Regions from separate parts of the Homo sapiens genome. Here region 1 is linked to region 2. A link means that fine-mapping ties the variant in region 2 to the plasma level of a protein whose gene starts in the linked region. Region 2 holds a variant in brackets. A gene starts in the other region. All regions are shown on their forward strands.

Region 1 (5,376 bases), not on the chromosome of region 2:
AAAATGGCTAAGTAGCATTACCATAAATTGAAAATAAATTTTTAGTATTTTTACATCCATCAAAGGCAAATCATCTCTTTCAGTGTTTTCTTATTGTCTGATCACTAAATAATTCCTGCCTTTGGTCCCTAGACCAAAGAGCTTCACACATTCCAAAGAGAAGCTGGATATTGACATTTATAACCACAGACAAATGGATAGGGAAATAGCTTGGGAAAACAAGAAGGATGAAGATGGCAGCATTTATAATTTCAGGGGAACCGTCCATAGATCACATATTAAGCATTTTGTAGAGTCTCTACCATGTGTTCGGAATGTACAGGTAGGTGCAGCAAGAGAGAATCAGAAGTCTAGGTTTGTTAGTTCAAAAACAGGTCCTGAAGTGACAGTTGAGTCCATGGCAATGTCCAGGGAGTCAGAAAGTCTTCACGCACGATTGGGTGGTGTTGGCTGGTGAAAACCTCAGGAGTCCCTGATGGATTGGTTTACTTCAAGCTGTTAGCTCTCCAAGCAGGCAAAAATGTAAACTAAGCACCTGGCATCTCTCCAAGGACACAGAGGGGCTCCTTCAGTGTTTGGGTAATAGAGGCCACCTGCACAAGCCTAGCCGTGCACATGTGACGAGGTGCATGCCATCACCAGCATCATGAAGCGGACACTCTTGCCAAACAATTGACCCAAATGGCTGGGGGTTCAAAATTCCAGTGCTTCCCCAAACAAGGCCACAAGTCTGCTCTGAGGGTGAGAGAAAATCGATCAGAGTAGCTGCTAGGAGTAAGGAAGGATACAGGATAACAAAACCTGTGGGGACCTAGCACAGGGGGAACAGAGTTAAACCTGGTGCTTTTTGCTTTGGGTCAGTGATAAAGGGCAGTGATTGCAGAGATTGCAAGAATTAGGGAAATCCTGAAATTTGTGAAGGAGATAAAAACAGGACTGAAGCAGATGTCGATGGGAACCAAGAGGTTAGTGATTGAAAAGTTAGTGCATTTTCACTGTAGTTAGTTGCTGCAGTGAACTTTTCCACCTTGGATTGTGGGGCAGGCAGAATAAATTATCAAGGCAATAAAGGATCTTATTTTAAAGGATTCTTTTGGTAGTTCCTAGCACACAGGGTCAAAGGAGAATAGAGAAGTGTGACTCAGAGCAGGGTTCATTTCCAGGTCCTTGCTGTAGATAGGATGATGCCATTCACACTCTGAGAAATCTCTTCCCATCGCTCTCCGAAGGAAGTCTAAACCAGATGGTAACTTAGCTTAGCTGCAAAGAAAATAAGAGCCACCAACAATTTAATGTTTTTCAAACTGCCTGGACAATCTTTTCCTTCCTCATACAGGCACGATAACAGAAGTGGCCGGTGGAGGGTGGCCCATTGAGTGCCCATGATGCAGTCCAACCAAGAAACAAAGTTCTCTGCACACCCCTCGCCCAGGCAAAAAGAGAAAGTAAAAGCAACCGGTTGCTGCCAAGGGGTGTGGTGTGGTGGGGCTGGCACTACCCTGAACATCAATGAAGGCTGTCTGTTTCTGGTCCTGCTTCCGCAGTGAGAGGCAGCAGGTCCCCAAGCAGGCGACCTGCCCTTCACCGTGAGGCTGTCAGCCTTGGGGGAGCGGGGTCATTTGGAGCTGATAAACCAATGAGAAGAAAGGTTTGTTGCTCTAGGCGGTGGGTGAGGGCATCATAGCTGACTCTTGGTCTTGGTCACTTTCGGAGGAGATGGTTTATTTAACCTGACTTCCTTCCTGATGCGCACCGTAGGCGCAGTGAAATCCGGGAATCGTGGGGAATCCTTGGCGCTGTGGGTGGAGGCTCCTCTTGGCCCTGTGGCCAAGGTGACCAAGGGCCGAAGGAAAAGCGAGAACGGGAGGGACGGGACGCAAGAGGGCAGATGGGGAACCCCATACTCCAGCAACATTATATAAGAGAGGCGACGATGGAGCAGCGCACCCGGCCAAAAAAGCCTCCGTGCGCCTACTCTACGGTGCACCGCGTCCCCTCTGCACCAGAAGGGCCCTGTCCTCCCACATCCACCGCGCCCTCCTCCGGGCCCCCGAGGGCACTGGGGCGCTTCCTCTGCCAGACCTCCCCTGCGACTCACTCTTCCGGCTCCAGAGCCCCCCCGCCCCAACAGCAAAGCAGCCGTGACCTGCCCCAGGGGCGCAGCCCTGCCCCAGGCTGGAAGGCAGCAGAGCTGTGGCGTCGAGGCACCCAGCGGACTGCGGGGCTGGCGTGCCCGCGGTTACCTGCGCGGCCAGAGGGCTCCGCGAGATCGAAGAACCAGAAGAGCAGCATGAGGAGCCCCGCCGGGCGGCGAGGGGTCGCCCAGCCTGTCCTCATCCTGAGCTGGCGCAAGCCTTCCGGCCGGGTCCTCGGGCGCACGCGGCTCCCGCCCCGCCTGCTGAGCGCGGCCTGCCCCGCCCGCACCTCTGTCTAGGCCTCTGGGGGCGCCCCGGCCCCGCCCCCGCCGCCCTCGGCCAATCAGACGTGCGTCTCCTCGGCCCCGGGGCGGAGCGGGCCAGGTGTGGGAAATGAACAGGGCTGGGCGCTAGATACCTGCGTGGGGTAGGACCCGCGAGGAAGAGGTACGTGCGGATCGGTGGGAGAGCCAGGCACCAGACAGGCTCCTGCACTGGAGGGTTCGGTCCCCGCCTCTTCATCAGCCAAGCTGGGGAGATGCGGCCCTTACTGGGACTTGGCACCGCCCTGGTGGGTGGGTTCTATCAGTTTAGAACCTTGGCCTCTGCCTGGCGCACTGTGGTCAGGGACGACTTCTCCATTCCAGCCTGGACTGGAAAGGGACCCATGATCTCTTCTACCCCGGAGGAGGAAGTGAGCACCTGCCCTGTGGGTGGCTGCGGCCAAGCCTAAGAATTCAGTCGTCCTTGGCAACGTCTTGGGTATTTTGACAGTGCAAACAAAGGTGGAATAATGGTACACTGCAGTTCTACCCATAGTTGTTAAAGAATTAAAAGCAAGAATTACTAGAATGACCAAACGACACTTCCAAGGATGACTTATGCTTTATAAAAAGTTGACCTTTGCGAGTAAGCTCTTTGCTTAATAATTTAATGATAATAATAATTAGCTGGTAGAAATGTAGAAGTCTGCATGCAGAACCAGAAATTTCATGTCCCACTCACTCTCTTCCTGTGGACACTGCTATCATTATAAAGAGGCCAAATTCTTAATGACCTAAGTTGCTCAAATGTGAATGTTTTATACTTTTAAATCTCGTCTTTGCTGAGCACATAATGTGTACTTGAGGTGGCCTCCATCCTTGTTGCATGAGGATGCAAAGACCTAGGTTGCTCTTCCTGACTCCCACTGCCAAGGTTTCACAGTTGGCTCCCAAACCTGCTCTGTCCTCTCCCCAGGGTCTGGCCTTTCAGTTCCATAGATATAGTGAGCACCTGCCATCACAGGATCTGGGCACGCCATGGAACAGAAGGACAAAAAGACAACATCTCTGCCCTCCCCTGAATACTGGGGAGACTGAGGCACTGTGATGGATAATATTGTCAGCTCGATTGATATGAACGAATGCAAAGTATTGTTCCTGGGTGTGTCTGTGAGGGTGTTGCCAAGGAGATTAACAGTGGACTGGGAGAGGCGGACCAGCCCTCAGTCTGGGTGGGCACCATCTCATCAGCTGCCAGCATGGCTAGAATAAAAGCAGGCAGAAGTTGGAAGGACTTGACTGGCTGAGTCTCCTGGCCTTCACCTTTCTCCCGTGCTAGATGCTTCCTACCCTCGAACATCGGACTCCAGGTTCTTCAGCTTTTGGACTCTTAGACCTATAAAAGTGGTTTGTCAGGGGATCTCTGGCCTTCGGCCACAGACTGAAGGCTGCACTGTTGGCTTCCCTACTTCTGAGGTTTTGGAACTCGGACTGGCTTCTTTGTTCCTCAGCTTGCAGACAGCCTATTGTGGGACTTCACCTTGTGATCATATGAGTCAATACTCCTTAATAAACTCCCTTTCATATATACATGTATCCTATTAGTCCTGTCCCTCTAGAGAACCCTAATACAGGCACACTCAGTGACACAGGGCAGAATGAATGGGGAAACTCTGACAAATGTTGAGGGAAGGCAACATCTTAGCTGGGTCTTAAAGAATGGGTAGGAATTTGAGCAGGCACAGCTGGTGGGAGAAAACCAGTGACAGGGCAGAGGCCAGAAAATGCAAGCAGAGTCAGAAGACAGTCCAGAGTCCAGGGTAGCTGCCCTGCGGGGGGTGTGTCTGTGAGAGAGATCAAAGTGGTTGTGGTGGGGGCCCCAGTGGAAATGACAGCAGAAAGGTGAGTTGTGTCTGTTTTGTGAAGGGCCTTGAATTTATTCTAAGGCACAGATGGTGGGAAGTTCTGAGTAGGAGAACCTGCCACTGACCTGATCCCCTCTGCCTCTGTGGCTGCCTGCCTTTCTTTCTGATCCTGCCCAGCTTGGAGCTCCTTGAGGGCAGTGGTCTTGCCGTATTCATTATCACATCCTCAACACTGGGCACAGGGCCTGTCCCAAAGTCAGCTCTCAATAAATGTTAGTTTAATCGATGGATGGATTCCTAGGGCCACCACCTTAGCCTAGGGCCATATGAGCTCCTACTTGCATTATATTGCAATAATTTATCAATTGACCTCACTGCCAACAGTTATTATCCTCTCTGGCAAATGAATCCTTCTAAACACTGTTTGGAACATGCCACTTTTCTACTCAAATCCTTTCAGTGCTATTTGCATATAGCAGGAGCTCCTAAATGCTACTTAAGGGAAATTATGAAACCCTGAAATTTTATGCAGCTTTATAAATGCACTATGTTTTGAGGAGGAGGAGGAAGGGTACAAGGCTTTCATGAGAATCCCAGAGAAGCCCATGATACAAAAAGAAAACTCTAAGACAAAAAGCAAGTACCTCTACAATTTGACCCTTTCTCTTTCTTTGAGATGGAGTTTCACTCTTGTTGCCCAGGCTGGAGTGCAATGGCGCGATCTCAGCTCACTGCAACCTCCGCCTCCTGGGTTCAAACGATTCTCCTGCCTCATCCTCCTGAGTAGCTGGGATTACGGGCATGCATCACCACGGCCAGGCTAATTTTGTATTTTTATTAGAGACAGGGTTTCTCCATGTTGGTCAGGCTGGTCTCGAACTCCTGACCTCAGGTGATCCGCCCGCCTCAGCCTCCAAAAGTGCTGGAATTACAGTTGTGAACCACCGTGCCTGGCCTAATCTGACCCTTTCTCTTTACTCCCTTCATATGTCACTCTTTGGTTCAAGCTACCTGTCTGAACCTGTCTTGCCTTTTCTTATCTCTGCCCATATATGCATATCCAGAATGCCATTTTCCCTTTGTCTTAGTTCCAACCTTTCTTGAAGTTTCTGT
Region 2 (5,376 bases):
AACAGACTGTCTCAAAAAAATAAAATAAATGTACATTTTCGTATGTTTGTCTGTCTTATTCACTGTGTTACTTAATTAACAAGCAAAACAATATACACAAACAATCTAACACATCCTGATAACTGAAAAACATTAAATAATCTAAGAATAAAATTACCTTCCATTATTGTTTCAACAACTGGGGGAGGCCGGGCGCAGTGGCTCACACCTGTAATCCCGGCACTTTGGGAGGCTGAGGCAGGTGGATTATCTGAGGTCAGGAACTCAAGACCAGCCTTGCCAACATGGTGAAATCCCCTCTCAAATAAAAATACAAAAATTAGCCGGGCGTGGTGGCACATGCCTGTAATCCCAGCTACTCAGGAGGCTGAGGCAGGAGAATCGCTTGAACCCAGGAAGCAGAGGTTGCAGTAAGCCAATATCACGACAATGCACTCCAGCCTGAGTGACACAGTGAGACTCTGTCTCAAAAACAAAAAACAAAACAAAAAAAAAAACTGGGGAGAAAAAACATGCAATCTCTATTGGTACTGTCACCATACAATATAATTATAGAGCTTCATGTCTTTTTATTTTTCACCATTCTGCTCATCCATCACCATTTTTCAACACTCCTCCTCTATATGTCCTTCAGTAGTTTCTAATGCTATTTCAACAAGACCTGGGTAACAGATTTTTTTATATAATCAAAATATTTCATTGATCCAGGTTTCTAGAATCAGACTGGTTGTATAGAAGTAACTAATTTTCTTTGGCATAAGGGTACCACATACCTCTAACCCCCTTCCAGTAAAACTGTAAGAATGCTCTTCCCTCCAGCTATTCACATGGCTGCCCCTTTCTTGTTAGTTACCAACTTAAATGTCACCTCCTGAAAGAAGCCTTCTCAAACTACCCCCTCTACAGCAGCTCCCCAACTATTATGTCTACCCGTTTTAATACTTAAGTAACTAATATTTAGTACATCAGTTAGACAATTAACTAAAATCTAGAAATCAAGTTCCACCTCTTAAGGTTAACTCACTTAGGTGAGTCATTTTGTTCTTCCAATTTCAGACTTCTTGTTGTTGTTTACATTATTATTAGAAAGGGAAATCCTATACCACGTATTGAATATTTTCTCCCTAAAAAGTTGAGTCAAATGAGGTGGCAAGAGGGGGTAGGCCATGACAACCCAAACACAGTGAAGCTAGAGTTTTTTTTGTTTTGTTTTGTTTTGTTTTGTTTTTAGGAAACTGAGGTGGGAAGGCAACTCTAAATTCACACAGAACAACTGCCAGATTAATCCGGTCATATAATCATCTAGGATCATTGTTTCAAAACAATTACCATTCACACAAGAACTAATATCAGCATTAATTGCTTGGGTTCAAATTCCGGCTCCATCACTTCTCAGCTCTGTGGCCTTAATCCTGTGACTTCAGCTCTCTGTGTTTCAATTTCAACATCTATGAAATGAAGATGAAAATAGTACCTTCTCAAAAGAAAAAAAATAGTATCTTTTCATAAGGTTGTGGAAATTAAGTAATATTCCATACAGATCGCATAGCTTAAAACAGTGCCTGGTATGTTATTAAGTGTTTAATAACTGCTAGCTAATATAATTATTTCCTCATATTCCAGCATACACTAGAGTAGTAAAGGAGAAAAAAAAGGCCAGTCGCAGTGGCCCACACCTGCAATCCCAGCACTCTGGGAGGCCAAGGTGAGTCCAGGAATTTGAGACCAGCCTGGACAACATGGCGAAATCTCGTCTCTACAGAAAGTTTTAAAAATTAGGCAGGTGTGGTGGCTCATGCCTACAGTTCCAGTTACTTGGGAGCTGAGGTGGGAGGATCACTTAAGCCCAGGAAGTCGAGGCTGCAGTGAGCCAGGATCATGCCACTGGACTCCAGCCTGAGTGACAGAGCGAGACCCTGTCTTAAAACACCACCACCACCACCACACTCTTCATATGAAGTTTTACCCCTTCAGTGCCTTTACCCCTTGAGTCCCTCTAGAGAAAGGGATAAAAGGCTTGGTCATGAAGCCATGAACAACTAGATCCAACCTAGACACACCAAAAAATCCAAACAACTCAGGTAGAAAAGGATCTTAGGGCTCTAGTCCCATGCTGTCCAAGAGAACTTTGTACAATGATGAAGATGTCCTATGTCATG[C/T]TGTCCAATATTGCAGCCATTAGGCACATGTGGCAGCTAAGCACTTGAAATACGATTAGTATGGCTGAGGAACTGAAATATTTAAATTTTAATCAACATAATTTTAAATTTAAAGAACCATGTGTGGAAGTAGCCACAATACTGGACAGTGCCCATTCCCATCTTCTCGAGTTCTCCAGACAGTAAGCCACCCCCTTCCACGGCATTCATATCACCTCTGACTTATGCACCAAGAATGCTTCCTGACAGGAAACTCAAGTCTCTCCCAACGATCTACCCGTTGCTCATAAACTTATCCCTTTCTGGAGGCCACAAAACAATTGTATTCCCCTTCAAAAGACTATCAGTGGAGGAGAGGGGAGTATAGCTGAAACAACGTTGGCCATTTACTGATAACTGCTAAAGCTGAGTGACAGGTACATAAGATTCATCCAGCTGTTCTCTTTCTAAATACGTTGAAATTTTACATTTTAAAAACCTTATTAGCGTTTACTTTAAGCTCATTTCATTTTCTAACTGAAACATATTCTTCCAAATGTGTTTCCTTACTTTCAGTGAGGACCCCCTCCAATTCTTCTATCACACTGTGAACCAAATTTTTTCTACATACACCATGTGTATAGCAATCCCTGTACTTTAGCACAAACTCTTCCCGCCTGGAACTTCCTCCTCTCTTCATGGCCTTACTGAAAACTGCTTATCTTCCTTGAAGATCCATCTCAACTCTCATTATTTTGAAGCCCTTTTTCTTCACTGCCCACCCATGGCAGTCCCCTCCCAGTGCTACCAATTTAAACTATCTGCATGCCTGCCTTCTCTACTACACTGGGTAACCTGGAAGCAGAGATAATGTTTCATTCATCTTTGTCTCTGTCCTAGTCTGACAGCATCAAATGTGTAATGAATTAATGAATATACAAACTTAATGAAACGCTAAACTGTAGCCATTCATACTGTACTACCCCAAGCCCATCAATACCACTTTTCAACCTTAACTTGCTGGTGTAGTTTCTACTGGTTTCCAAACATGCTAATAAGAACAGCTAAAAGTTACTGAGCACTTATTACTTGCCAGGCATTGCTTTAAGCGTGTTACATGTTTAATTCATTTAATCCTCTTCCATCCCCTTTTTACAGGGGAAGAAACTTAAGCATAAGTGAAAATAACTTGCCTTACATCACGAAGTATGAAGGAGCAGGGATGCGAATACTAATTGTAAAGTCCCTGCTCCTGTGTACAACAAGGAAGACAAATCATAATCTCAAATGCAAGCTTCAAATCCCAAAATTCAGATTTGGGAAAGGGGATTAGGATGCCAAATAGGAATACTGACCTGTAAAAAGAAAAAGTAACTTTAGGCATTCTCCACAAAACAGTGTGAGGGAAAATGGTAATCTTTTTATTCTTGTAATTTATAGTAAGCTACTACTGAATAAGAAAGCTAACTTGTACTAGACAAAGTTAAGTTCTACAGGAAGTTTTTAATTATTAGAATTAGTTTCATGGAAAATTTGGGCTAGATCTTAAAGGGTAAGTATGAGGATCTCGAATGGCAGAACAATGATGGAGGAGCAAGCAAGAGGCAGACACTGGGCACTGGACCTCCACAAGCAGTGAGGAAGGAGACCATCTTGATTTAAATGGAGGTCATATTTTTGAAGAGTTAATGGGAAACATGATCAGAAAGGTAAAATGGAGTTCTATTAGGGGTCAGCAAATGCCCATGGCCTATTTTCACATGGCTTAAAGCTCAGAATATTTTTTACACTGTAAAGAGCTTTTAGGTCAGGCACGGTGGCTCACACCTGTAATCCCAGCACTTTGGGAGGCAGAGGTGGGCAGATCACCTGAGATCAGGAGACCAGCCTGGCCAATGTGGCGAAACCCCATCTTTACTAAAAATACAAAAATTAGCTGGGCGTGGCAGCATGTGCCTGTAATCCCAGTTACTCGGGAAGCTGAGACAGGAGAATCGCCTGAACCCAGGAGGCAGAGGTTGCAGTGAGCCAAGATTGCACCACTGCACTCCAGCCTGAGCAACACAGCAAGACTCTGTCTCAAAAAAAAAAAAAAAGGGGCTTTTAAAATATGTAAAGAAAACGTGCAAACATACACAAAAAAATGGGACTGTATATGGACTGCAAAGCCTAAAATATTTACTATCGGGCTGGGCACGGTGGTTCACACTGGTAATCCCAGCACTTTGGGAGGCCGCAGCAGGTGGATCACCTGAGGTCAGGAGTTCGAGACCAGCCTGACCAAAATGGTGAAACCCCCATCTCTACTAAATACAAAGAAATTAGCCGAGCGTGGTGGCACATGCCTATAACCCCAGCTACTTGAGAGGCTGAGGCAGGAGAATCACTTGAACCTGGGAGGCAGAGGTTGCAGTGAGCCAAGATGGCACCATTGCACTCCAGCCTGGGTGACAAGAGCAAAACTCCATCTCAAAAAAAAAAAACAAATTTACTATCTGGCCCTTTACGAAGTTTGACAGGCCTTGGATTAGGTCATAGAAAGCTTTGAAGGTAGACTCCCTCAGGCTTGGGAATAGGGTGATTTTTAAGCAGAGGGGTAACCCAACACAAGTAGAGTTGAAGTCTAACAGCAAAAGGTAGGCTAGGTTAAACCCATGGATAAAATTAATGTATCGCAGTAATTAAGAATAAAATGTACAACCTCCTGATATTGTTTGGCCCAAATAAATAACAGCATAGCCAAGAATTTGCCTAAAGTCACAGAGGAAAGGAATTATTCTCTCAACTATTATATTCCTTCCCTCTGGAAGACTAACATGTACTGCTGAAGTCTTGTTCAGTGTCCTTCTAGCCCCAGACTTTGCAGCCTACCAACATGGACTGAGACAGGGAAAGCGTGGGCAAGTGAGTTCCATACTCTAATTTTCCTACAGAAGCATCCTAAGTGGTGTGTGGGTTCTCAGATCAAGTCACAAACACATTCACAGCCCATGATATCGTACAACACTACTTTTTAGTTCAAATTAATTATGAGTAACAACAGACTATCTGCCAAAATAGGGAGCTGCAGAAAACTAACCATCATTTATGATGTTGTTTCCAAATTTCAAAATTTTAAAAAAAAAAAAATTATAAACAAACTTTTTGATTGAAACTCACTGATAGAGAACTGCCAGGACTAAAGCATGGTTGATTGAAGAAATTTTATTGCTGACAATAATCACCGGATTGTTTTCTT

Which allele goes with the higher level. Alleles are on the strand shown, and positions count from the first base shown. The strength of an association depends on the size of the effect and on how common the allele is.
For the plasma level of the protein whose gene starts at base 2,411 in region 1, allele T in region 2 goes with a lower level than allele C (weak association).

Evidence for each region. A credible set is the group of variants that fine-mapping cannot tell apart. PIP is the chance, under the fine-mapping model, that this variant and not a neighbour inherited with it causes the effect. The UK Biobank Pharma Proteomics Project read protein levels with antibody pairs (Olink). The fine-mapping took linkage between variants from a reference panel, not from the people measured, so its PIPs are less certain.
Region 1: LY75 starts here. The variant in region 2 is the best candidate, but not a certain one, in a credible set for the plasma level of the LY75 protein (UK Biobank, PIP 0.52).

Annotation. Positions count from the first base shown.
Region 1 is chr2:159,902,346-159,907,721 of GRCh38, forward strand. LY75 (lymphocyte antigen 75) reads right to left here and starts at 2,411. Exons shown (of 35, transcript NM_002349.4): 1 at 2,244-2,411. The coding sequence starts at 2,337. LY75-CD302 (LY75-CD302 readthrough) reads right to left here and starts at 2,411. Exons shown (of 38, transcript NM_001198760.1): 1 at 2,244-2,411. The coding sequence starts at 2,337. RefSeq lists enhancers at 1,323-1,372, 1,423-1,472, 1,693-1,742, 1,883-1,962 and silencers at 2,143-2,602, 2,372-2,613.
Region 2 is chr12:111,567,793-111,573,168 of GRCh38, forward strand. The region is part of intron 1 of ATXN2 (ataxin 2); the gene reads right to left. Among named protein-coding and RNA genes, the nearest start is that of ATXN2, 29 kb to the right of the region's middle. RefSeq lists a silencer at 2,775-2,972. The variant C/T (reference allele first, on the strand shown) is at 2,160.